Linked DNA regions of Homo sapiens: all the other regions are linked to region 4. The links come from fine-mapping of genetic effects on gene expression. A gene starts in region 4. Each other region holds a variant in brackets. All regions are shown on one strand. Distances are between the middles of the regions.

Evidence for each region. PIP is the estimated chance that this variant, and not a neighbour inherited with it, causes the effect.
Region 1: its variant is fine-mapped to the expression of RUNX2 in neutrophils (CEDAR, PIP 0.91).
Region 2: its variant is fine-mapped to the expression of RUNX2 in putamen (GTEx, PIP 0.99).
Region 3: its variant is fine-mapped to the expression of RUNX2 in blood mononuclear cells (TOPMed, PIP above 0.99). The same link has a PIP of 0.9 or more in whole blood.
Region 5: its variant is fine-mapped to the expression of RUNX2 in whole blood (INTERVAL, PIP above 0.99).

Annotation. Positions count from the first base shown.
Region 1 is chr6:45,555,720-45,560,828 of GRCh38, reverse strand. No RefSeq gene overlaps it. Among named protein-coding and RNA genes, the nearest start is that of RUNX2-AS1, 19 kb to the left of the region's middle. The variant C/T (reference allele first, on the strand shown) is at 3,016.
Region 2 is chr6:45,454,506-45,459,614 of GRCh38, reverse strand. All of the region lies in intron 5 of RUNX2 (RUNX family transcription factor 2), which reads right to left. Among named protein-coding and RNA genes, the nearest start is that of SUPT3H, 79 kb to the right of the region's middle. The variant T/C (reference allele first, on the strand shown) is at 2,412.
Region 3 is chr6:45,549,576-45,554,675 of GRCh38, reverse strand. It overlaps RUNX2 (RUNX family transcription factor 2), which reads right to left. Exons shown (of 9, transcript NM_001024630.4): 9 at 3,594-5,100. Among named protein-coding and RNA genes, the nearest start is that of RUNX2-AS1, 25 kb to the left of the region's middle. The variant C/T (reference allele first, on the strand shown) is at 2,408.
Region 4 is chr6:45,326,211-45,331,319 of GRCh38, reverse strand. It overlaps RUNX2 (RUNX family transcription factor 2), which reads right to left and starts at 2,990. Exons shown (of 9, transcript NM_001024630.4): 1 at 2,860-2,990; 2 at 2,536-2,659. The coding sequence starts at 2,593. All of the region lies in intron 2 of SUPT3H (SPT3 homolog, SAGA and STAGA complex component), which reads left to right. RefSeq lists an enhancer at 3,221-3,261, a promoter at 2,668-3,308 and a cis regulatory region at 4,266-4,272.
Region 5 is chr6:45,528,565-45,533,673 of GRCh38, reverse strand. The region is part of intron 7 of RUNX2 (RUNX family transcription factor 2); the gene reads right to left. Among named protein-coding and RNA genes, the nearest start is that of RUNX2-AS1, 46 kb to the left of the region's middle. The variant G/T (reference allele first, on the strand shown) is at 2,171.

The DNA of each region.
Region 1 (5,109 bases), 230 kb before region 4:
GCAAGGGATGGGGTGAAGCCACAAATTCCTCCTCCTCTTAGCTTTCCACCTTCCTCTGCCCTGTAAATGACTTGACACTTATGTCTGAGAATCACTTGGCACAATAATGGCTGTGTCTATCATTAAACAGGGGTCAGATGAACTATGTTATAAGTCTTATAACACTATACTTAATACCTGTGTGCTCTATCATCACCCCATCAGAATGGTTTTCCCCTTCTACTTTTTAAATTGAAGGGTGATATGGTTTGGCTGTGTCTCCACCCAAATCTCATTTTGAATTCCCACGTGTTGTGGGAGGGATCCGGTGGAAGGTAATTGAATCATAGGGGAAAATCTTTCCCATGCTGTTCTCATGATAGTGAATAAGTCTCATGAGATCTGATGGTTTTAAAAAGAGGAGTTCCCCTGCACAAGCTCTCTCTTTGCCTGCCACCAACCATGTAAGATATGATTTGCTCCTCCTTGCCTTCCACCATGATTGTGAGGCCTCCCCAGCCACGTGGAACTGTGAGTCCAATTAGACCTCTTTCTTTTGTAGATTGCCCAGTCTTGGGTATGTCTTTGTCAGCAGTGTGAAAATGGACTAATACAAAGGGATATTGGTTATAGGTAACTTAGATAGCAAGCAGATAAAAGGTACAATTGAGATGACAAGCCCTTTTTCAAGAATAGCTGTTATGCTTTGATTTGTTTAGGTGGCTAGGACATCATGTTAATGAAGTCAAGACTATGGCCCCATCTCTAGAGGCCAAAGCTTGAAACAGCAAATAGAAAGACCTTTCCAAGCCACTACCCTTAGCATTGATGGCAAGGGTCTGGGTGAGAAAATCCCTCTTGTCCACTAAACGGAAATCAACTTGAAGCATGTTGCCAACAGATATATCAGCTTTCTCCAGGAAGAAATGGCACTGATGCTCCTAGACTGGATTTCTCATCCTCTAAGTCAGGCCTGGTATGCTAACTTCATCTATGTTTTAAATAAAGTAACATATAACAGGTCTTTAATTAATAAGGTTAGCTGGAGCATGGTATGGGATCAGCATGTTGGAAATTAATTTATATAAGAAAGTTTTAATAAATCAGTTTGCCTAAATTTATAACAAATGAAAATAGGTTCATGAAAACTAGGACATTAAAAAAGTAGTTAATGAAAATATAATGCAGAAGGTGCTACTATTATGAAGGAAGGAAATATCTCTTACGGTGAGTGAGTATAGAAACTGCTTGAAATAGATGTCCTGACCCTTGACTTCCAATCATCTGTCTATGGGGTGATCCTTCAAAAGTGATTTGACCTCTCTGGGATTCCATTTCCCCATCCTCTACAAAATGACCATTTTGCCAGTTCTGCAGTAAACAATGGACCCCATTCTCTTTCTTAATGTTAGACAGACTCTAGTCTTTTAAAACTCCCCATAATTTCTCCATTCCAAAAGCCATTCCAAATCTATAGGTAAGAGCTCCATGGTCCTTCAGCAGACCATCTGGCTGGCAATATATTATTGTCCCAAGTTAAAGAGAAGGTCAAGAGAGGTTAAGTGGCTTGTTCAAGGTCATGCATCTAGTTAGTAGGGGTTAAGGATCTGGAACCCAGAACTTTTTGCCACTTTCTGATGTCCCCCTTTCAATACACTGCTCAACCCCTTCAGGGAGAGTTGGCTTCATGGCTGCTACAACAGGGTGGAGAAAATGGAAGAGTAGATTTTCCCTCTTTGACTGTATGAAAATCACCCACTTTTAGAATACCAAACCACCCATATATGTGGTGGGAATGAAAGTCTTGTGTGACTAAATATAGATGCCAAGTACCTTACAAATATTTGAGTGTTTGCTTTAGGAAATGAGAAATGGAAAATGAAACTGGCTATAAACAGAAATCAAAACTGTCTAAATTCTCTCTATAAACTAATTACTACTTTTAATATCTGTTTTTTGCAATCTCAAGAATTCATGAATTTGCTTAAAATAAAGAATGGCATGACAAAAACCTCTTTTACTGAAATGGATTAAGTTGAACAGACATGCTTTCCAATACGCTTCTTAATGACGGCAAGCCTTCCAACATATTGGTCTGCCTATAGTAGCTGTTCAATAAATATTTTCAAAGAGAAGAAAGAAAAGAAGGGAGAGAGTGTGAGAGGGAGAGAGATAATTTCTATTATCTGGACTTTCAGTAAAATATAATATTTTTTTCCATATAGATTTAAGAAAATAGTCTGCAAGATACTTTAAGATACTTGGAGAGAAGCCTACCTATTCATTCAAAGTGATTTAAATCATTTAGGGCAAGAAACGGTCGTGCCCCATCCCTGGGCTCCTCCAGGCTTCTGCACACCAACACAAAGCCTTGCCCAGATCAGGGGTTCCACTTCAGATGTGAGGGAACTGGGTAGTGCCCCTTTGTCAGATTGCAAGGAGGACCCCAGAGCCATTCATAGAAAGGTAAGGGTTGAAGTTGACAGGAATTTCTTGGCTCGGGTCTCTTTCTAGTTAGATGAAGCCAATGCTGCCAAATTAAGTGCAATAATAACATTTTCAGTGACATTGTTCACACAAAACACAACATACCTACATGGAAAACCTTGGAAGAGACTACAGATTGAGGATTGGGATGGGGGTAAGGTCAACATTCTTGTTCTGAAGGTGTTGATGTATTCCATTCATGGTTTACGTGATACGATATCTCCGGGTTCCCTAGGGAAGAAGCCCATAGCAAGCCAATTGCCAAACTTAACCTTAATGAAATGGACTAATGGCTGTTGTAACAGCCTGAACCTTAATGTTCAGTAGAAAAATAGTTTATAAAATATATAGGAAAAAAACCTCTGTCAAAGAGCAACATTTTTAAAAATGTTAAAATAGCATTTTTTAAAAATCTTCCACTTCTGGCTTCAGCTCTATTGTGATTCCAACTAATTGAACATTTTATTTATGCTTTTAAAAACAATCTTAATTATTATCAACAATAATAAAACGTACCATCTAGTTTACATCTATTATGTGCCACACACT[C/T]TGCTGGGCATTTTTAGATCTCATTAATTCATTTACTTCTCATAACCTCCATTATACAGATGATACAGAGATTGTGCCCAAAGTTTGAGCTTAGGAACATAGTCTCTGGTATCAAGCAGATCTAGACTTGAGTCTTAATAGCTGTATAACCTTGGACAAGTCTGAACCTCAGTTTTCCTATCAGTAAAATGGGGATAAACACAGTACTAACTTCTTCATAAGTTGCTGGGAAGATTAAGATAAGGCACGTGAAACATTAAGAAAAGTGCCAGGTACATATGTGATCATGCTACTGGTACCAAATCTGAATTTTCCTCAAAAAGACATTAAAACAATGGGCTTCAGTGCCATCCTAAGTAGGGAAGGAGGAAAATCATCTTTGGCTCCCATTCCTTTCCCCCCAGGATGTTCATACTAGTGAGATCAAGGCCAAGTGAACTTCAAGGACAGCTAGGGAGGAAAAAATAGAAAGGATAATGTGCACTTTCTGCATTTCAGGGGAGGATGTGGCAATTGGAGAGAGAAAGTATGAGGGTTTAGGAGGATGATATGAACAGGAAAGGTAATGAAAGGGGTCTTTGGGGAACTTATTTTTGGGGCGAGCTTCTCAACCTCCTCCTAACATCCCCTTCTTCTCTCGCTCACTTTCCTGCAGGCCTTGGAAGCAAAGCCCCCAGGAATGACTGGAAGACAACACTCTGCAGACCCCTTCCACAGGGTACCCCTGCTCTCCAGGAAGGGCCTTCAGGGCAGCATTTGGAGGTGGCATGAGCTAGCAGCGGCGTGCAGCCTGGTCACTGTCTGATCTGGTCAGCCCAGCCGCACAGAACACCACACAGGCTCTGGCAGCTCCCTGGGAAAGAAGAAAGCAGCATCTTGCATGTGTGGCTTATTCTGAAAGGAATAGTATCTGAGGGATTTGATGGACTCTGACAGGGGGAAGAAGGTAGTGAAAAAGATGGAACAAAGATGCCATTTAAAAATACTGGCTCGTGTTCAGGATTTCGCTATTTTTTACTGCAAGGAACAAGTAAAAAAAAAAATCCTCCTATTGATGAGTATTTTTCTACAGTCATTAAAAGTCAAAGGACTCAGGGCTTCCGACTTTCCCTCTTGGGAAACCTGTAAGCTCGTCTTCTGGACAGCTTAGAAAAGGGCTGGATGGCGAAGGCGAGAGGCTTAAAGGCCCCCAGCAAGCAGCTCCGCCGAGGAACGGGTGCAGGGGACACACTGTGTTTTCAGTTCAGATTCTGTGATCTTTCTGCCAAACAGGGGTTTACAAAGCAAAAACCTCCAGAGAATTCTCATACTTTCTGGCTTATTCTCCTGGTGTTCGTCTTAACAGGAATCAGCTGTTTGCCTTCTCACTTATACAGCATGTTGCTGAGGCGAATTTAGCATCTGGCCTGGCTATTATTAAAAACAAGAACATCCTGCTCTGTTGGGAGAACAGCACCACTGGCAATAAAAGGACAGAGATCATTTGCATTCAGGATTCCAGAGATGTGTTTCAGTTCAATATCTGCGCTCCCTCCTTCCACCCCTGCTTTCATTTTAAGATTTCCTGATGCATCCATCACTTGCAGCGTGGTCAACTTTTTTTCTGAAACAGGCACACACAGGCAGAGCATATTTTTTCCTTTCACTGGGAGGCAGGAATGACTGGAGTTGTTCAAACACCGGTCCGTTCCTGCAATTCCTATGATAAAGTTGAACTACCAGAGGAATTTTTTTTTTTTTTTTTACAACTGCGGAAATGAAAAAGTAAACAAGACTGGGACTGCATTGGTATTTAGGCTCCAGCTTTTTGTTGTTGTTTTTGTCTTTCCCTTTTTTTAAGCCATTGGGCTAGGAGCCTGAAGGGACCATATAATATGAAAAACGCTGAGAGGTTTTATTAGCCAATAAAAAAAAAAACTGAGTTCCTATTAACCACTTAACTCCTTGCTGAAGTTCAAACTTGCTTTCTCCTTGGATCCTTCTCTCCCTCTCATGCCCACGAGGAATGACGGTTGGTTCACCAATCTTTCCCTGCACAACCTGAGCTCACAGTTTGTGCTCCAGAAGGTGTGGTTGAGAATCGTATTCAATAAT
Region 2 (5,109 bases), 130 kb before region 4:
ATGTCTGTCATATGGCAGGGCTCAATAAACACTTGTTGAAAGAATGAACATGTGATAGCCGAATTGAATACACAGTGCCATCTAATTGTTTATTAATTATAGCACTATCTCCAGGACCATATTTTAATTCTTCCAAAGTAAAACTTTGTGCCTTATATTCCAAACTTGTGTGTAGCTGGCATACTTGTAGGCACACAGCAGGTGCTCAGTAAATACTGTGGCTGCCTGGTTGATGTGAGCAACGTAGAGAAAAGCAGGATCAGAATTTCAAGTATATTCAGCAATTCAAGTATATTCAGTTATTTTTAGGTAATTCTATGATTTTTACAAAGAAAATTAACTGTTATATCTCTGCTCTGTGGGAATACGGTTTTTGATACTGAAAATGGAAGATCATGATGTATGTGACCATAAGAATGTGTACAAATAACTATAAACATGTCAAGCTCTGGGGTTCTTTATGGCAAGAACCCAAGCTAAAGTAAATTCAACTGAAAGAAGAGTAAGGGTTGAGACTAAAGAGAGAATATGGGATGTCAAGAAATCCAGACAGAAATAAGGGCTGCTTAATGTCACATACACACAGGGAAAAGGAAATTAATCAGGAGAGGGGAAGGAAGAAGGCAAGTGGCTCAAAGCTTCAGGTTACTGTCAGGTTTTAGAAACAGAGAATACAGCTACGCATTTCTGTTGGCAAGTTTTTTCCAAGAGGACAGATTGTGGACCTTGAGGTTTTGCATCCATAACATTTGCCCTCTGAAACCAGAGACATTAACAAAAGAGCACCTCAGGAATTTGAAGGAGTCAAGAGGTTCTGTATGTTTCCAGATCATACTTAGAGCCACTTTTTCCCTCCTGCCACAGATTATTACATATGAGTTTTATGTAGAATGAATATATGAACCTTGAAAGGTCCATTCAGCTAACTGGAAGATTCCATTCGCAGTTTATTTTTCATATATTTTTACTGAAATGTCTTATACCAGAGAGGAAAAATAATCAAAATTTTATTGTTGATTTAATTTATTTACTTGGCAAAAAGGATTAGAAACTGAAGGAGATCATAATGTATTTGCCAGTTAACACATTGGTGACACGGAATAAATGTATAGTTTATCAAAATTGTCACAGCTGATTCCTTAGTAACCCAATATTTCTATCTGATTTCTCAATGTTACAAAAGTGAAACACAGACTCTAGGTAGTTTCATCAAGAATGTAAGATGCTTAACAAATACTCTTCATTGCCTAAAAGTTGGCACTGTTTTTGTTTTTAATTTCCTACCCCAAGCCGGGCACGGTGGCTCATGCCTGTAATCCCAGCACTTTGGGAGGCTGAGGTGGGTGGATCACCTGAGGTCGGGAGTTTGAGACCAGCCTGACCAACATGGGGAAACCCCGTCCCTACTAAAAATACAAAAATTAGCCAGGCATGGTGGCAGGCACCTGTAATCCCAGCTACTCAGGAGGCTGAGGCAGGAGAATCTCTTGAACCCAGGAGGCGGAGGCTGCAGTGAGCTGAGATCGCGCCATTGCACTCCAGCCTCCAGGCTAGGCAACAAGAGTGAAACTCTGTCAAAAAAAAAAAAAAAATCCTATCCCAGAATTTATCATTGCATTTGATTAGATCCCATATAGACTGTCAGAGAGCCTTCATTGCCTGTTAAACCTTCATATGCCTGTGAGCTTCCTTGTCATATTAACCAGACAAATGCATTTTAGAGCCACCTCTGCACACTTTTCACAAAGCTTTTAACCACAATGGCTGACTGGGCCTCTATGTTTTTCCACTCAGTCCCAGGCTCTCATCAGCCAAGCTGCCATTGCCCTGGCTTATTTCTTCTACTTTGTTCTATGGGCCAGCCTCCCCAACCTAGTCTCCTACTTTTCTCTACTTCACTTAGCCTCCTTGATGTCAAAAGTCACACTAGAAAGGCTGCTTTAGTTTTTACAAGCGTTGAATAAAAAATAATAATAATTCAAATTGCATTTTCAGGTAGACTTTTAGTAGCTTAAGGCAAAGCATGTGCCAAGAAGAATGCTTCTTCTTTTCCAGATATACTTATGAACTGAAAATGTTATACTTTTCAGGATTTTTAGAGTCTTCAAATCTACATCCTCTCATCTTTCATGTTTCTAGAATTCCAAAAATAGGAAAAAGCATTGTCTGACATGGGATCTTCCTTCCACCTTCCCTTCTCCAGTCACCCTATCTCCTATGGAGATGGTCCAGGAGGAAAAAAGAACTACCTTACCTGCTGATTCAGCCATCCCTGCCCTGACTTGCAGCCTTCTTCTGTTGGGAAAGGTTAAGCATTACCTTTCCCTTCCATCCTTAGTAATGAACAAGCTGCTACACTAAAAAGGCAATGTTTTCTTTTTTTCTACATATCTCTTTTTCTCCATTAATTC[T/C]GCTTTTCTTTGATCCTCCACCAGAGCAATTCAGAACAAAAACTACAACTATGTAACCCCCAAAATTGATTTGAATTTTTTTTTCTTCACATGTATCTGATTCCTACTTACTTTTGCCCCCTCCTCCCAAAAAAATGCATATAAAAATTGGCTAGCTTCTAGTTAGAGTAATCTGAAATTATTTTGGATGTGGTAAAATAGTGACATCTTACACATTTTTCTTCAAATTCACAGCAGGAACCTTTTTTCAACTTGAATTTGATTTGAATCATACTAACCAATTTCAAATATGAAATGTTCAACACAGATGTGTGATCCTGGGCAAGTTCTCTAATTTCTCCAGCCTTCTTTATCACTTGAAAAAGGGCATCTTCTCTGTCTGCTTTACAGAGTTGTTGTGAAGTCATCAATGTTATTACAAACTTTGTATGCTATGCAAATACAGAATATATTATTTTCTGAAAACCCAGCCCATAGGGCAGGTCTGAGCATCCTTTGCTAAGGTATACATAAGCCACTCCAAAAGATGACATAAAGAGATGGAGCCTTGAGGAAGTCTGAAGAGGAAACCCAAGAGACCCTCAAAGCATGCTTAGAGTGCCCAACATAGCATATTCTTATTCGATTAGCATACCAAACATCTTGTGAGCACCTATAAAACAGAACAGAGATAAAAGGAAAAAAGAGACAAGAAGAAAAGCAAGGAGAAGAATGTACACTTCATATGAGTTGTCTTCTGAGGCAGGCAACCATATCAGAAAATAATGCAGTGGGCTGTAATGTTTTTAAAGGAATAGATTTTATACCAATTTTTGTAAATCAATTTTCAAAATGTTCATTTTTAATCGAACAGGATTTACCATTTTGCGATTAAGACTCAGGGTATAGGTCAGTCAATTCCTTTGAATAATTAAAAAATAAAATCAGTTTAGAAAATGCAAAAATGTATAAAATAAAAAGTATATGTGAATATATATTCATACATACAAATACATTTAGGAAAAAGTAGTAAAAGGAATTATGTCAAAATATTAACTGAGATTATCTTTGGTGTTGAGTTTCAAATGACTTTTTACCTTTTTTTCAATGCTTTCTGAATTTTCTGAAATGTTTACAACAGATCTTCCTGTATACTAATTAAATTAAGTAAATGTTATTTCAAATGTAAAAAGAAATAATTGGCAGCACTGAGCATCATATATATGCTTTTGTTACTAGTCCTAACAATGTCGTATTTTCACCAAAACAGAATTTTTTCCACATAATCTAAATTATCAAAAACTAAAAGTATGATTACCTCTCTACAATGGCAGGGCATTTATCTACAATGCTATTAAAGACTAACAGGATAAACAAATCCTGTAAGGTACATGAGAATATTCATTTCTTGTGACCAATAATAATTGCAGTTTCTCTAAGAAGAAAAGATGGCTTAGTAAAGATAAGCAAAGCCCAATGAACTTAAAGGCGTATTGCTGATTGTCACGGGAGTCTCTCTTTACCTTGCTCCTTCACCTTCCACCCTAGTCCATCACACTTCACACTGTGCTAAAGATAAATAAAAGGACTACAAATTAAGCCCTTTATGGACCTTTACGGGTGCTAATCTCGGGTTTATACTCAATTCTGCTGGAGGCCCTTTCAAGTTAGACTCTCAAAGTTATTTCAGCAGCACTTAGCATTCTCAAAAGCCCTGGACAGAGCAGCCATGGTGCAAATGTTTGCTCAATTAACGTAGAAATAAACAATATGGATACGTTATTAAAGCTGATTTTCTTTCCTAAAATTACCTTCTTTTAATTACCAAGCTCACCAAGAACAAAAGCATCTAAATATCAACATTAGAATTTTACTGGAATATAATTATTTGTCAATTAAAAATGAAATAAAACTTAAAAAAGAAGAATTTCCCTGAATTTCTACAGTTACTTTGTAAGTTGTATAGAGGTCTTGGGATTTAAGATGCTATTGTACAAATAATATTTTCTAACGCAGTTGTTTTAAATAATTTCTAAACCACGAGCTTTCCAACAGCCTGGCCACATTTATGTGGAGGAGAACGGTGAGACTATGTTTTCTTTTCTTTTTTTTCTTCCCAAAGTCTCACTGTCGCCCAGGCTGGAGTGCAATGGCACGATCTCGGCTCACTGCAGCCTCCACCTCCCAGGTTCAAGCGATTCTCCTGCCTCAACCTCCTAAGTAGTTGGGACTACAGTCGCCTGCCACCATGCCCAGCAAATTTTTATATTTTTAGTAGAGACGGGGTTTCACTATGTTGGCAAGGCTGGTCTCGAACTCCTGACCTCAAGTGATCCACCTGCCTCAGCCTCCCAAAGTACTGGGATTACAGGCATGAGCCAGCATGCCCGGCCTGAGACTGTGTTTTCCTGAAGTGAAAACTATCAAAATCCATTCTAAGAACTGACCAAATAGCACCAGGAATAGAAGTAGGAATAGAACTCAGCTATGGTTCAGCTGGAGGACCTCATTGCTGTAACAAAAGTACATACACACACACATACATAGATAAATACCTACATACATACATAATCTTCTGATAGACTTTTTGGAGCAATTTGTCCCAATTTAGAAAGGAATGAAAGGAGACATTTATAAATTAGCCGGAAATGCCACCTATTCCTTCAAACACAAGGATTTCTCCCTTCCCCATAAAAGTTTTTGTTTACAGCTAAGAGAT
Region 3 (5,100 bases), 220 kb before region 4:
TGAATAGCAGGGCTGGATTGAGTCACAAACTTTTGAATAATAGCTTTACAAAAATTACTAAAAACTCCTTAAATGTTAGCTTCTCCCTGCTCCCTTAATTGACATATCAAGGAGCATCCAGTGTCCCTTGTCCCAGTAACCTATTTGAAGACAAGTAATTGTTTCTTTATCACTTGTGGGATAAAGGCAGTACTTTTTTTTTTTTTTGAAGAATTTGCAGAAATAAAAAACTGAGGCCAAGAAACACTGTGTCTCCTGAGTACATGTGCAGGGGTGGTGAGCCCCATCTTTCTCTGAGTGGGTGGCTGTTCAGGTACCCTTTCCAAACTTCACCCTCCTCCTTCCCTCCCTTCAGGCACACACATACCTGTGTGTGCATACACATATACACACATACACACATACACCACACCACACACAGACACATACACATGCACCACACATATACACACACATGCACATACATACACATGCACACACACCACACACATATACACACACATACACATGCACACACACACCACACATACACACCACACACACATACACACACCACACACACACATACACATGCACACACACACCACACACATACACACCACACACACACCACACACATATACACACATACACACACCACACATGCACACATACACACATAGACACACACCACACACCCGTATACACATATACACACACATATACATATACGTGCACATACACACCACACACATACACACATGCACCACACACATAAATACACATACACACATGCACCACAGACACATATACACACACATACATACACCCCACACACACACACACATACACCACACACACGCCCACACACACACATCCCTGGTGTATTACCCTTTGCGTCTTCACTGGATCCTTTTCCTTGGTAAGTTTTGATTCATAACTTTTTAAAATTTCCTTTCCAAGGCCTCCTGATTGAGTAGTTACCGCTGAGAAGCCCCTAAGAAGACACAAAGAGGCTTCTCAGGGTCCACAGCAATGGTGGTGAGGAAGGAAAGACTCCCTTGCCTTTGCTCAGAACCCAGAGTTTAAATCAAGAGTATCAGCTCTCCACATACTGGTTCCTACCTGGCCTTTCTTAGCACCTTTTCCGGGCCAGAGGAGAGAGACAATGGAAGAGCCGAGAAGGGTTGGGAGCAATTTGGAGTATACCTGGGGTGCATAGGCCTAGGGTGTAAGCCTGATTCCCAGTACCAATACCTGGACAGCTCAGGTGTTATGAACTCTTGCATGAAGATGTCCTTTCCAGCCTCACAGAAACTGACTAAGGAGTGAATGCATGAGAATTTGCTTGGGATTTTCACAGGTGAGCTGGCCCACACTCACTACAACTGGAGCAGTCAGTTGAGTTGTCCTCCACTTCCCCAGAAGAACTTAGAGATGGTGACACTGTTTCATAAGCATCCTTTTTAGATACCTCCAAATTGTTGCTTCCTAGGACTGATCTCTAAAATAATTTTCGAATAGTTAGGACAGAGAGGCCAACTGATAGCATTTCTTATTGTTAACCTGGTAATCTAGGTACAGGCAAGCCAGTACCTCCATTTCTGCAGTGGCTCTTGGCTAGGTCATTATTGTTTACCAACCATTTCCAGAGAGAATGAAAAATTAACTAATAAAGAGCTGTAGGACCTGCTCTCACTGACTGCCAATGAGGGCTTCCCTGACATCCTCCCTTGCCTTTCATACTGTTTTCAAGTCCCATAAATATAAACATGCGGCTCTTCCACTGCGTCTGTAGATAATAACTTCAGGGGCCTTCCTGTTTACATGGCAATACCCATTTCCCAGCCAAATAAACTCTATGACAGAGACCTGAGGTGTTTATTGGGCCAGTCCCGGCTGGGATTGAGTTAACAGGAAACACCCACTCTTGCAGAAATGCCTGATGATTAAATATTTGGGGGATAGGGGACACCAGGGGTCAAAAACACTGCAGAAATTGCTTTCTTCTTCCGCCTGCCGTTTCAGTGAGAAACAGGCCATGATAAATATGGCCAACCAATCCAGGCTTAACAAAGCCCCACAGCTGGGCTGTTCACTGGCTGCACAGCCCATGTTGCAGAGAGGAGTGAAGAGGTGCAGACGAAAAAGCCAACAGCAGCCCTCATGATACATCCAAATCAAGTGAAGGGATGGAAAAGGTTGAGGTGTAGCCATCACTGGGAAGTCCCTCAGCCTCTGCCTGGCTACTCTGATTTAATAAGCAATGTATTCTCATATCAGTTCTGTCAATAAAGCCTCTAGCTAAGTGGTTCTCAATCGGTGGTGATCTTGCCACCCAGGGACCATTTGGCAACATCTGGAGACATTTTTGATTGTCCTAACTAGGGAGGTGCTACTAACTTTTAGTGGGTAGAGGCTAGGAATG[C/T]TGCTAAACATCCTACAATACACAGGAGAGCATCCCTGACACACACACACAAAAAGAATTACCCAGTCTGAAATGTCAATAGTGCCAAGATCTAGCCCAATGCCTTTTCATAAACCAAGAAACTGAGACACAGAGGAATAAAGGGATTTGCCCTAGACCATCCTGATAGAGAAAACTGGAGACAGAAAGCAAGCCACTGTGACCACCTCCCTTGTGAATGCCCTTTAAAGTCACACAGATGTTTGATTTTTTTTTAAATAAATAAATCTACATCCTCAGAGTTGCAGACAAGTTCCCTGGCTTAAGCTCACCCAAGTGCTTTCAGGACATTTCCTATTCTTGGAATTTAACTATTTCCAAGATTTCTTAGAAAATAGTGCCAAAGGGTTAAGAATGAGCAGATCTTCAAGGTCTCTAACTCTCCCTGTGATGTGGGTCAGCTTGGCCACTGGCTGACCTTCTCTGCACCATGTTTTCCTGGGTCCCTATTTTAGAATTGTGGTGAGCCCAAGCATTCAGAAAGCATAGGACACAGAGAAAGCAACCTTTCTACCCCAGGTCTTCAACCTTATCACAAGGGGGGGGACTTACCAAAAATAAACAATGGCCACGGGAAAAAAAAATCTCCAAACTATAGTTATGTTCACTAGGAGAATTCTTCTGAGGCTATAGCCCTCCAGGCCAAGGTCCGTTTTTACTCATCCTTGGGCTTTGGTTGACTTTATTTTTAAGAACCCAAAAGAGATGTGGAAAGGAAAACAGACTAGCCTATATCTGGGCTGCCTGAGATCTTCTGTTGATAGCCAGAGGTTCACTTGCGGGGCCCTGTTCATGTTCTCAGAGATTAGAATCATGAAGCCATCGAGACTGCATCTATACGCCTGATAGGTCCCCCAGTTGGAATAAATGGCCTTACTCAAGGATGAGGTGAGCACTCCTTCCTTCAGACACAAGCTAGTAAGGAAGTGAGTTCACTGCTAGATTCTTTGCCCACCCCTCGCTAGGAACAGGACAAAACAAGAAGACACCGTTTACCAAGATTTTTTTTCTTCTCCCCAGTAATATAGCATCTCTTCTCTTAACTAGCCCTGGCAAGTCCTAAGACCAAACAGTGCCCAGGTGTAAGCAGGAGTAGACATCAGACTAGGGAGAAACCGTGAACAAGAAAAGACCCAAGGTACACACATAACAAAACCAAAAAAGCCATTTTATTGAAAATTAAATTCAAACTTCAAATTAATATTACAATCATGAGAAAAATGCCAAATAATTCAATTTACAGTTGCAACATACAATACAAATAGTCCCTTTGAAGTTAAGAGTAAACTCATCCACAATCATGACCTGTGGCACAAAGCGGAATTTTTACAATATGTGCATGGAAAGCAATTCTTGGGCAATAGCAATTGGAAAAAATAAAAATGAAAGCTTGTATTTACACAAAATGCTACAAATATTTTTGTTCCACAGAAACCTAAGAATGGTAAAGCATATCCAAAAGAAATGGAATTTTATTCAGAATACCTAAGAAATTATTGTAAGTTATGGTTTTGGCTGATATATTTCAAAGTACTGCATTAAAAAGCAAACAGTTATTTGTAAACATGAAGTAAACACACATCTAAAAAATTCTCACATAGAAAATATTTTTAAATGCATTCGTTTTCTAAAAACAACAAATTCAAGGTTTGGAAGAAGTGTCTTTTATTATTGTTCTTTCAAATACCATAGGTATAATTATTACTTTTGCTAATGCTTCGTGTTTCCATGTATTAACCTGGATTCTGGGCCAGTCCCTTTCCTCGGAATTGAGGGAATCCTTAAAGCTGTACACACATCTCCTCCCTTCTGAATTTATCACAGATGGTCCCTAATGGTGTGGACTTCTCTGCTCATTTTGAAAGGGCTCTGGCAAGTGAGAGGCAGTGAGACCGTCTAAAGAGCAAACGATAGTTAATCTGTTGAGTTTCTCAGTTCTGGGCTGAATGTTATTCCACTAATCTAAAACCAAAGCTGTGGTACCTGTTCTGGAACTCTGATATGGGTTAAAATTTGTGAGACAACTGAAATGGATAAAAATGTGGCTGCATTGAAAAGACTGCAAATTCCAGCAATGTTTGTGCTACAAAGAGAACCACGCTATTTTAATTCCCAGGAACTAGTACATGGTTCCACAGTAGTAGTAAGACTTTGCTTTGGTCTTGAAATCACAAATCAAACACATGACCCAGTGCAAATTAAGGGTTCAGTGAAAAAAAAAAAAAAAGAAAGAAAGAAAAACAAAATTTTAATCCCTAGACCAAAAAAGGGCAGAATTTGTTCTAAGAAATGTGAATTACCCCCATTGGGGTGGTTGGAGTGAGGGTGGAGGGAAGAAGTGCTTGAATTTTTCCCAAGGAAAAAAAGCTTCTAAAGTGTTTCTGGGTTGCTGCCTGCAGCCACTATAGTAACATTTCAACACAAAAGCATCCCTAAAGTCACTCGGTATGTGTACTGTAAACTTAAAAAAGCCCTTTTAACATTAAAAAATAATGTACAAATATAGTACCTTTTTAATTAAATAGGATGCAGCTGGCACTGGCGGTAGCATTTTTATGTCAATTAATTAAAATTGAAATGTGTAACCAGACACTGGCTTTTTTAAGTGCTGCTGAAACAAACACACATATTTTACACTTACAAATAAATGGACA
Region 4 (5,109 bases):
ATTTTCATGAGTCATTAATTTTAAGATACTCTATGAGTCACATCTGTGATTTTCAGCAAGCTATATTTATGATAAATGATGGACAGATTTTGAGTAGTACAGATTGAAAATTTTTGATTAACTCAAAGTGAAGTATGCTGAGAGATCAAGGACACAGACATACTCTTTCTCTAGCATGTGCGCGCGCGCGCGCACACACACACACACACACACACCACTCATTGTATTTGAGGTGAAGCAGTTGTTAATGTGTGCTTTGTACCTCACCTAGGAAAATCCTAAACTTTCTTTTTAACTATTTTACAAAATTGGGGCACATACTTAAGACATTTCATTAGGTGGTGGTGATAATCATTATATAAAAATCTAAAGCCTGAAGTGAGGTTTTAGGCTTTGCATAGATTATAGAATGGGGAAATGTTTGCAATGTGATAACATATACATGATGTCCACTACTCACCTGTAATTAGTCTGAGGTAGTGGGTTGATGTTAAGTTCTCTATTCAGGCTTCAAGATACTGTTTGGGGGCTGGCGGGGAGGGAAGGTGCAGCCCACTTTTCAAAAGAGGAAGAACTGGTTGTAATGTTGGAAAAAAAAAAGGTTCACTACCATGCCTTGCTTAGAATCCTGTCAAGTTTTGGAAATTTTGAATAGTTATTAAGAATGTTACAGAAGTATAAGATCCCTGTTATGATAGAATAAGAAGCAGTTTAATATATTCTTTGTGAGAATTTTAACATATTCTTCATGATAACTTTACTTCTAATACTGAAGAATTTTTTGAAACTTGTGTTGTTCCTGATCTGGTTTTTAAAATGTGTTTAAAATAAATAGTTAAACAGAGTGATAACGTGAAAGAGTAACTTAACTGCCTCTGTTATCCCTCCCTGATATCTCTGTTATCCCTGTTTCAAGTTATCCCTCTGTGTAACAGTAGTTTTAACTATTCTTTTTCCTTTTATCTCTTGGGTAGTAGTAACAAAACTTTCGATGTATAAGCTGTAATTATGCTATGTGTTGTAATGTAGTCTAGCTGTGTTTATGTCCTGCTTCCTTAATATAGAAGTTTTTAGAGTAATACTTGGTACCCATCATTAAAATTTTAAATTAATCTGTGATTATTATATTGTATATATTATAACTGAGGGGGCCCACTTACAGCTATTGAGGGAGTCACTAAAGCAATTTTACATTTTTTTTTGTAAAATACAAAGTACATTTCCTCACCCTGTAAGAGAAACCATTTTTTCTCCCTTCAGGTTTAATTATTTCTGTTTGACCTAAACTGAGACTGATCCTCTAGTAGTATCCAGTTAAAATGTGTGAAGTAGGAGGAGTAAAGGAAACTCCAGTCATTAGTTGTAAGTTAAAAGCAGAGTTAATATAGATGTACACAGCAAGAAGGTTTATTTTAATGGATATAAGAAAAATTTTTGAAAACTTGCCTTGTAGTTGGAACATGTTGGAGATCATAAAGAGAATCTTGTAAGTGTGTTTAGATATTTTGCTATAATAACACATCAGCTGATGAATGTTAAAGTCATTTACATATCTGTATCAACAGTAACTTGAAATTAAATATTAAGGGACAAGATTATGCCTACTTCTTTTAAAGTCCAGCATGGTTTAATAGTTGTGGCTTTTAAAAATCATACAGGGTATCCTTATGGAGCTTTATTTTTCATGAGACTAAACAGCAGTTATTCATTTTGGTAGGTCCAAGAATGTGATTAAAAGAATCTTAGACGTTTCAGTGTTTCAGTGTGTTTATAACAAGGTCTATGGATAACAGTGTGTAGATGTAAAATTAAAATTACATAGAAAAATGCAGTTGCATGTAAGTTTTAAAATACTTCCATGAACTTTTTAATATCCTGGGCAACTATAAAGATCTTTTAAAAATGGCTGTGATGTGCTTATCATAATTTTATTTCAGCTGAATGTATACTTATATAAAGTTGTTTAGAAACAAACTTATTTAGATAGGATACAGTTTGAATTTATAAGTAGATTTCTTTTAGTTGAGCTGGTTAAAATGTTAACTGTACTACAGGTTTATTTCTGTGTTATACATGGTAGACCATAATGTTGAGATAATTCTGTGGTCTGTTATTTTGTAAAATTGCTTCCTTTTTGAAGTTTGCTCAAATATTGGGAGCTGCCGGAGTCAATAATTTATAATGCTTTGATTAATTTAGGATCTGACTTTTCTTCTGGTGAGGGTTAATGAGAGTATTAAACTGTTTCTTTTACTGTTTTCATATCCTCACCTCTATAACTCTAGAAAACATTTTGATCAATGTGAGATAATTTAATTTTGTATATTTCAAGTCATTACTTTGAAAATTAGATACATTACAGATACCAAATGCAAATATATACAGAAATTTCATTTTTCAATTCTTAATGCAACAAGATAGCATAATTAGGATCTTTAATATGCTATTTGGAAAAGCTAGCAGTTTATCAAAGAATCATACCTTTATGTTTAACAGGTTCATATCTTACAGGATTTTAAAAATGGTAACACTTACCCCAAAAGAAGTTTTGCTGACATGGTGTCACTGTGCTGAAGAGGCTGTTTGATGCCATAGTCCCTCCTTTTTTTTTCAGATAGAACTTGTACCCTCTGTTGTAAATACTGCTTGCAGCCTTAAACTGAAAATACAAACCATACCCAAACCTTGTTTTAGTTTTACAGTATGCCTGGAGTACATAGACTTTATATTTATTTTTTTCTGTCAAGAAATTATGTAGCTGGTAACATGTGAAAAGCAAAGAAACAAAACAAAAAGAGAATGAGCAAATATTTGAAGGACCTACTATTACTGCATAGACTGTGGTTAGAGAGCACTCACTGACTCTGTTGGTCTCGGTGGCTGGTAGTGACCTGCGGAGATTAACCATTTAAAAACCAGAGACTTCTTGCTGTCCTCCTGGAGAAAGTTTGCACCGCACTTGTGGTTCTGTGGTTGTTTGTGAGGCGAATGAAGCATTCACACAATCCAAAAAAGCAAAAGCTTTAAAACTCCTTTTTTTTGCAAGCACTATTACTGGAGAGGCAGAATCATGTGGTTTGTGACCTCACAGTACTCTTAAGTAAAGTGGGACTGCCTACCACTGTGGCTTTTCCCCCTTGCTCTTTCTCTCTCTCTCTTTCTCTCACAAAAGGCTTGTGGTAAGGCCTTTCCTGGCATCCAGAAGGATATAGCTTTTTAATTTTTGTGACTCATGAGGATTTGGATAGAATACAAATGCTGAAGGAGCCCAAACTCCTGTAAGGTTAAGCATTTGTAGAGCAGAGCTCTGCAGTTAAGGGCTTTCCTTTCTACTCCCCGCTCAACCTCTGCCTTTTTGCCTCCTCTTTTTAGTTCATTATTGTGTCTGTGGAAAAATGAACAAAATTGGCTCAAGAGTCTGTGTGAAATTCTGAACAACAGTGATGATATACAATAATTCACATCTTTGGACTGTATCACATTCTGGGGTCTGCTTCATATTTGCTGGGTGGCTGGATTCCTTCTGTTTTCCTTTTTCTTGTCTTCTTAAACTTGTGAATCTGTAACTCATTGTAAAAAAAAAAAAAGTTTACCTTAAGGTCTGGTTGCAAACTGCTTGCTAGGCTTGACTATAATTGGCTGTCATGAAAGTGTTAGTCTGGGCATTCTTTTACAAATTTTAAATCACGTCTGTCTAGTTTATTATCAATCTATTAGATGGCGGCCTTTACAATAAAGATTAAATGTAATGTTTCATGTATACCATTATCTCATGCCTAGTTTGAAGATCTTAAAAAAATGAATGACAGGGATTGTAATATAGTTTATTGGATGAATCTTAGTTTTCTTTATGATTGTAATATTTTTTGTCTTTCATTGAAGTGTATTCAGTTTATATAGTTCTTTAAGTAGTTTAGACATTAATAGAGTTTCTGATAGCAGATCTTCTATAAAGTAAAATGCTTATGTTATAATGTAGATTGTTCAGTATTTGATTCTATGAGCTTAGAATAGAGTGGGTTAACAGAAGCTATGTATTTTTTTGTTTCTAATGGAAGCTTTGAAATAAATTACAAAATGCTGTGTGTAGTAAGGAATAATGCCCACAGACAGAGTATGTTAGTCGTCTCGATTTGCTAATTCTGATTCAGAAGAAAATTGGAAACATCTTTGGGAAACTATCTCCTTTTTTGCCCCTTTGGACAAGTATGTATAGAACTCATTTTCTTATTAGGATGATTATATATCATAGGCAGTGAATTTTATATTTATGAATAGAGCTTCCTGTTTTCATCAGTTGGGAGCGATGGAGTATTTTTCAACCAAAATTATAAAGGCGAACAGACCAATTTTCTAGGCATTTTTTTGCCATTTATCCATGCCACTCTAAATCTGCATGTTAGACTTCTTCCTAGTGTGACAGTAACTAGGAGTGGCATAAAGTAAATGGGGTGGGCGGAGACAGTGAATTACAAAAGATTATTTGGAATGTGCAGGGAGGTAAGGGCTAGGGAGACAGGAGGGTGTTAGAACTAAAATATCCCTGTGTTCTTCCTAGTGCTATTCATTATCTGCTTTTGGTTCATATTAGATCACAATAACTGTACAAATATGTTCATAAGTTTCTTTACAGAAAATTTGATTTTCCCAAAATACACTGGTAGGGTATGGGAATGATTCTAGTCCTTTATTTTTCAAATGTCCAGAACCTTTTCAGAATAAACTTTTAGTGATAAAAAACCAGAAATACATTTTGGTGTTTTATTTTAACTATGGATTTATCATGCCTTATTGTATGTGTAAACAGATTTTACATTGAAAGGTAAAAGCGTTCATTTAACATGCAGTTATTCATGTGAAGGAGAGAAAAATTATTTTTTCTCTTTTATAAATAAGTCGTATCCATATTATCTGTATCTCTAATTAGTATCCAAAGTAAACAAAAGGAGGGTTTTGTCCTTATAGCTTGTGGGATTTCCAAACATGGTTTCATGTGTACCTATAATAGCAGAATCACTTAATTGAAAATATGTAGGTAGCTGCTGTAGTATGATCAGCAAATGGTTTTCTTCTTTTCAAATAAGCTTATAGTTTCTACATTAGCATTCA
Region 5 (5,109 bases), 200 kb before region 4:
ACAAGAGTCTTCCTGCTATCCTGAGACAATGCTCCTTATGTAACTTCCGAATCCAAATGTAGTGTTGTAGTAACTCGTTCCTCTGACAGTCTCAGCGTTTTTCCACTCAAGCCCTGCACACAGAATTAACTCAAAACTTCTGCAAGAAAAACGTCCCTTTTAGAGTTTGATTTGGCATCAGTTTCAAAGAGCTGTTTGTATATTTTAGAATATGTAGAATTTTCCTTTGATTGAAAACTCTCTTTTTAACAATGGACAAGAGATGATTTCTCTTCTGAGTGATTTAAACAAAAACAAACACATCTTAGTTACATAGAGCCTTGTTCTCAAAGTGGTCTTTCTGAAAGAAATCAAACCCTACAGATTGTTAAGCATTTGGCAAAAGCCTTCAAACAGCCAAAGCCAAATAGCGAAATTTTCCTTGTTGCAGGAGATAAACAAATACTAGAGCAAATTTTTTAAAAAATAGAACCTCCTTTCACTTTCTACTCTGTTCGATAACATTCCCCTCTCAACACACACACACACACACACACACCCCTTCAGAGGGGTTTCATCTTCAATGTTTATTCCTGGTGCTATAGTAATAAACTCGCCACAAATGGACATTTTCAACATCTGTTTGTGGCTGTTCCCAGACGTCTTGTATTTCTCTGGGACATGAAGCCCTCTGTCTCCCAAGTGTAAACAGACACACCTAATTATGTATTAAGGTGTCTGAGAGGAGCTACTTGTTTTGATGACCGTGAAAAAAAAAAAAAAAAAAAAGAGCCCGGTCTGCTTAGCTAGCTGTGGGACGTGGGACAAACACACAGTAGTCCAGTAGTAGCTCCTCAAACAGTGGAAGTTCTCTGCCTGCCAAGGACAAAATCCAAGTCCTATTTTTCTCAGCCTGAGAATCATGTCCACTGAGTCCACTCCAGATGTGGACCAAAACAGTCAGTGACTGGTCAGGAGAGACAGTGCTGCCACAGATGCAGGGCCACATCTATTTAATCTTTTCATAAGGACTTAATTTTCGGGTGAAAAGAGGAAAGGTGCAGAGGAGGAAGAGGTCATTGGTGGTTCATTTTTTTTCTTCTTCTTCAGGTCACAATGGCCATGGATAGCAATTTTAATACAATGTCAGTAGCCTATGAGAAGAGTAGCAGGATAAAATAATTCTAGAGTGTTGGACTAGCAACTGGAGATGTGGGTTCTGGCCACAGTGCTGTCCCTGCCTCACAGGGTGATCACGGTGGAGTCCCTTTCCCTCCCTGACCCACACATTCCTTGTCAGTAAAAAGAGGGGCGGGGATGAAATCATCTCTGTGGGTTTCCCTGCTCTAAAATTCTGATCCTGCTACATATTGGACAAGTCTGAGAATTCCAAAAATACCTTCAAAAATTCTACTAGAAATACTGTTCCTGCAAAGAATGGTCCCCATTCATTAAAAAGCAGTACTAGTTTTCAAAATGAGGTAATAAAGCTATACATTCAATGTGCAAAAAAAAAAAAAAAAAAAAAAAAATCTAGGTTTTCTATGTACAAAATGTCAATTCAAAAATTTAGGATCTTTTCTAAAAACTAAAAAAATGTAATTGTTAACAACAGTTCCCAACACAGGCCAAAAGAAAATGGGAACACTACTAACTTTTTAAGAAAGTCTTTCATCCTTAAATTTAGCAGTAAAGGAGGTTAAAACTAACACTTCAGGCTCCCATATTCGATGGGAGATACCACGTGAGCTATTTCTCTTTCTTTTCTGTTCTAGATTATTTAAGCAAATTGTTTGATCTGAATTATCCAAAGTTAAATAAATGATTTTTTGTATCAACCTTTCCAGCTCTTGCAAGGTAGAATATATCGTGCAAAATTTAAGTAGCTTTAAATTTCCTCGCCCCACATATAAAACCATATATTTTGAGTTTTGTTTTTTTTTTAGACAGAATCTCACCCTGTTGCCAGACTGGAGTGCAGTGGCGCCATCTCGGCTCACCACAGCCTCTGTCTCCTGGGTTCAAGCGATTCTCCGGCCTCAGCCTCCCAAGTAGCTGGGACTACAGGTGCGCACCACCACGCCTGGCTAATTTTTGTATTTTTAGTAGAGATGCGGTTTCACCATGTTGGCCAGGATGGTCTCGATCTCTTGACCTTGTGATCTGCCCACCTCGGCCTCCCAAAGTGCTG[G/T]GATTACAGGTGTGAGCCACCGTGCCTGGCCTATTTTGAGGTTTTAAGATTTCATTAATGTGTACATTTTTAATTTCTAGAATAAAATTTATGTTTACAAAATTGGGAGGTAGATTTTTCCACTATTATTTCTTGTTAGGGATTTGGTCCATTTTACTTTATTTTGGGTTCTCTGATCTGCATCAAACCATGAATTTTGGCTACTTAGTAAGGATTAATGGTGTTATCCAGGTTTGGGCTGGAAAGATCAGTGATAACAAATATTCCTCTTAGGATGATAGCCAACAGGCCTTTGTAGCAAAGTCCGATTCTGATATGGAGACTCCTACAGCAACGCAGAGTAGGGAAAAGCATATTATGTGGAGCTAAAAGACCTGGAATTGAGTTTTCACTCTCTATCCCTTTCACTTGATGACCCTGAACAAATCTCTAAATGTCTCTGAGCCCTCATTTCCTGCTGGCAAACTACTGAGTATAGTAGTATTGATACTTCAATGCGTTGTAATGATTAAATGAAATAATGTCTATGAAAGTGCTTTCTATAGATGTAAAGCACTATCTAAGTATTATTAATATTAAGTCTTGCTATGCATTTATTTTTACTCTCACCTTTGGAGTTAGTTGCTAAAATTCTTCCCATCTTCCCCTGCACTTAATTTGTCTGAGGTTCTAACATGATGTTCTTTATCTGTGAGCTTTAAGTACTTTCCGCCATCAGAAAAGAGCTGTTACAGAGGACCCAATAGTCCTGCTCCTTTTTAATTCCCTCACTCTCTGGAGTTCCTGAAGCAGAGCAGAAGAGTTCAAGGTGCCCTCCTAAGATGCCTCCTCCTTCCTGGGGGAGTCCTCAGTTTGTCTGTACATATTCTGTTGCACATGCCCGAGTTTCCACTTCTCTTGGATGACCAGCAGCATCCTCTGGAGACAGCAGCTTGATAAGCTGCCAGAGTCCACTGTCATCTAACTGCACTGGACCATGGACCTCTTCATATGCAATAGGATACTGTGGGGGAATGCAATAAGCCTAACTCACAGATTGTACTTGTACCAATCTCTTTGTTCTTCCCGTTTCCCTCAGTGTTAACCTGCTTGTTACACTTGTTGGAACTTACTTGCCACATTTTTAGATAACTGAAGGGATTTACCTCCAAATCGCCTTCTATATAACCTAAAGTGGTACTGCTTATTTGATTTTAATGAACTTTTACAAAGATTGTTTTCAAACTTCTAACTAGACATTCTATAATTTGCAGTTTGAGATTTAACCTTTTTATTAAAATGGTGGTAGGAAGACCCCTGGGAGGGGTTCACTTTGGAGAAATAGTTTTTCTCTCTTAGGTACCAGGGAATGTGGTAAAGTGCAGGAGGAAGGCAACTTAGCCATCTGCAGAAGCTGTGGCTTTGCAAGTCCAAAGCTGACACCTCAAATACTAGCTTGCAAAGTCTGCAAATGGGCTGAAAGATAACCACATCTCCAGTTCCCTAGTTTTAATCTATCTCCTAGTTACCTATCTCCTAACCCACCTGTGCGGTGATTTTCACTATTATACCACGGTGTTGTTGGAGTGAAAAAGATCAGTACCAATGCCTTAAGACTGGAGGGGGAGGGCATTAGTATAAGCAAGTCCAGCCACTCATCTGAAGAGGAGGGGAATTCATTACACACATGTGTATTGTCAGGATTCAGACCTCTTGGCTCATGGGGAGAAAGCACGCCTCTTTTCAATAAACTACCCTACCAATTTTATTCCTTTTTAAAGTGACTGTTTTTTTCCAGGGGCTGTTATCTGTTATCTGCTGCTTCTGACTCTAGTGAGAAAATTCACATTACATTTTTTCACCTCCATTCTCTTTTACTATACCCTTCTAAATGAAAGGGAATGCAATAAGCCTAACTCACAGATTGTACTTGTACCAATCTCTTTGTTCTTCCCGTTTCCCTCAATGGGCTGTCAAACCTAGTTTTTAACCAGGGAGAAAGGTTAAAAACTAGGTTTGACAGCCAAAGAAACAGCCAACCCATCATCCGAAGCTCCAATCTATGAAGTTTTTGGAGCTCTGAGAATTATTCTGGATTCCCCATGCTGACACCCTTTGAACTGTATCTTCTATGGAGTCCTTGAGCTTCCAAAACTCAAAATAAATCCATCAAATACATTTTGAGTAGGTTTGGTCACTGGGAAATGTGCTCTCCAGGTCCTGATTTTACTACTCTCCTTTCCTTTAAAACAAACTAACAAATGGCTGTAATAGTTTTCAGTACACACACCTCTGAACTTCAGGATTCCAGAAAGAACAGAAAGCTGTGTCCATGGAGAAATGGAACTTCATTACATTTTAAACAGGAAATATAAGAAAAAGTGTTCATATCTGCATAAGATCTTGAAGCTAACTTCCAGAGCCCCAAATTTAGAGTTTCATGAGGAGGAATCTCCTTTTAGGGCATGGTTGAAGGATCTGAGAATGGAGTGATAGCTTACTACAACTGTGATGCCAACAGGGTTACCTGTTTAAAGCTTTCTCCTATAAGCTTGGCTTGTGGTTATGAGATTCTGCTTAGAACATGTTCCTCATCCCTTATCAATTCAAGTTCCTTGCTATTTAAGATAAGCCCCAATTTCTCAGTCCTCTGAAGAAGCTGTTTGGGTACTGACTCCACAGGGAGGACAAGTGCTGGTTTCTCACCTGGACTGACTTTTCTTGACTGCTGGATATTAGCTCGCCAGCCTGAAGGAACTGATAGCCCCTTGCCTAAGTGTTTCTTCACTTCAGAGCTGTTGCCACGCACTGCCCAGTGTGATCATCTAATGATTGCCTGCAAAGCCAGCCTGGTCACACCTGCATGCATGATGCTTTCCATTGAAGTGCATCTTTTTTTTTTTTGAGACAGAGTCTCCCTCTGTCACCCAGGCTGGAGTGCAGTGGCACAAGCTAGGCTC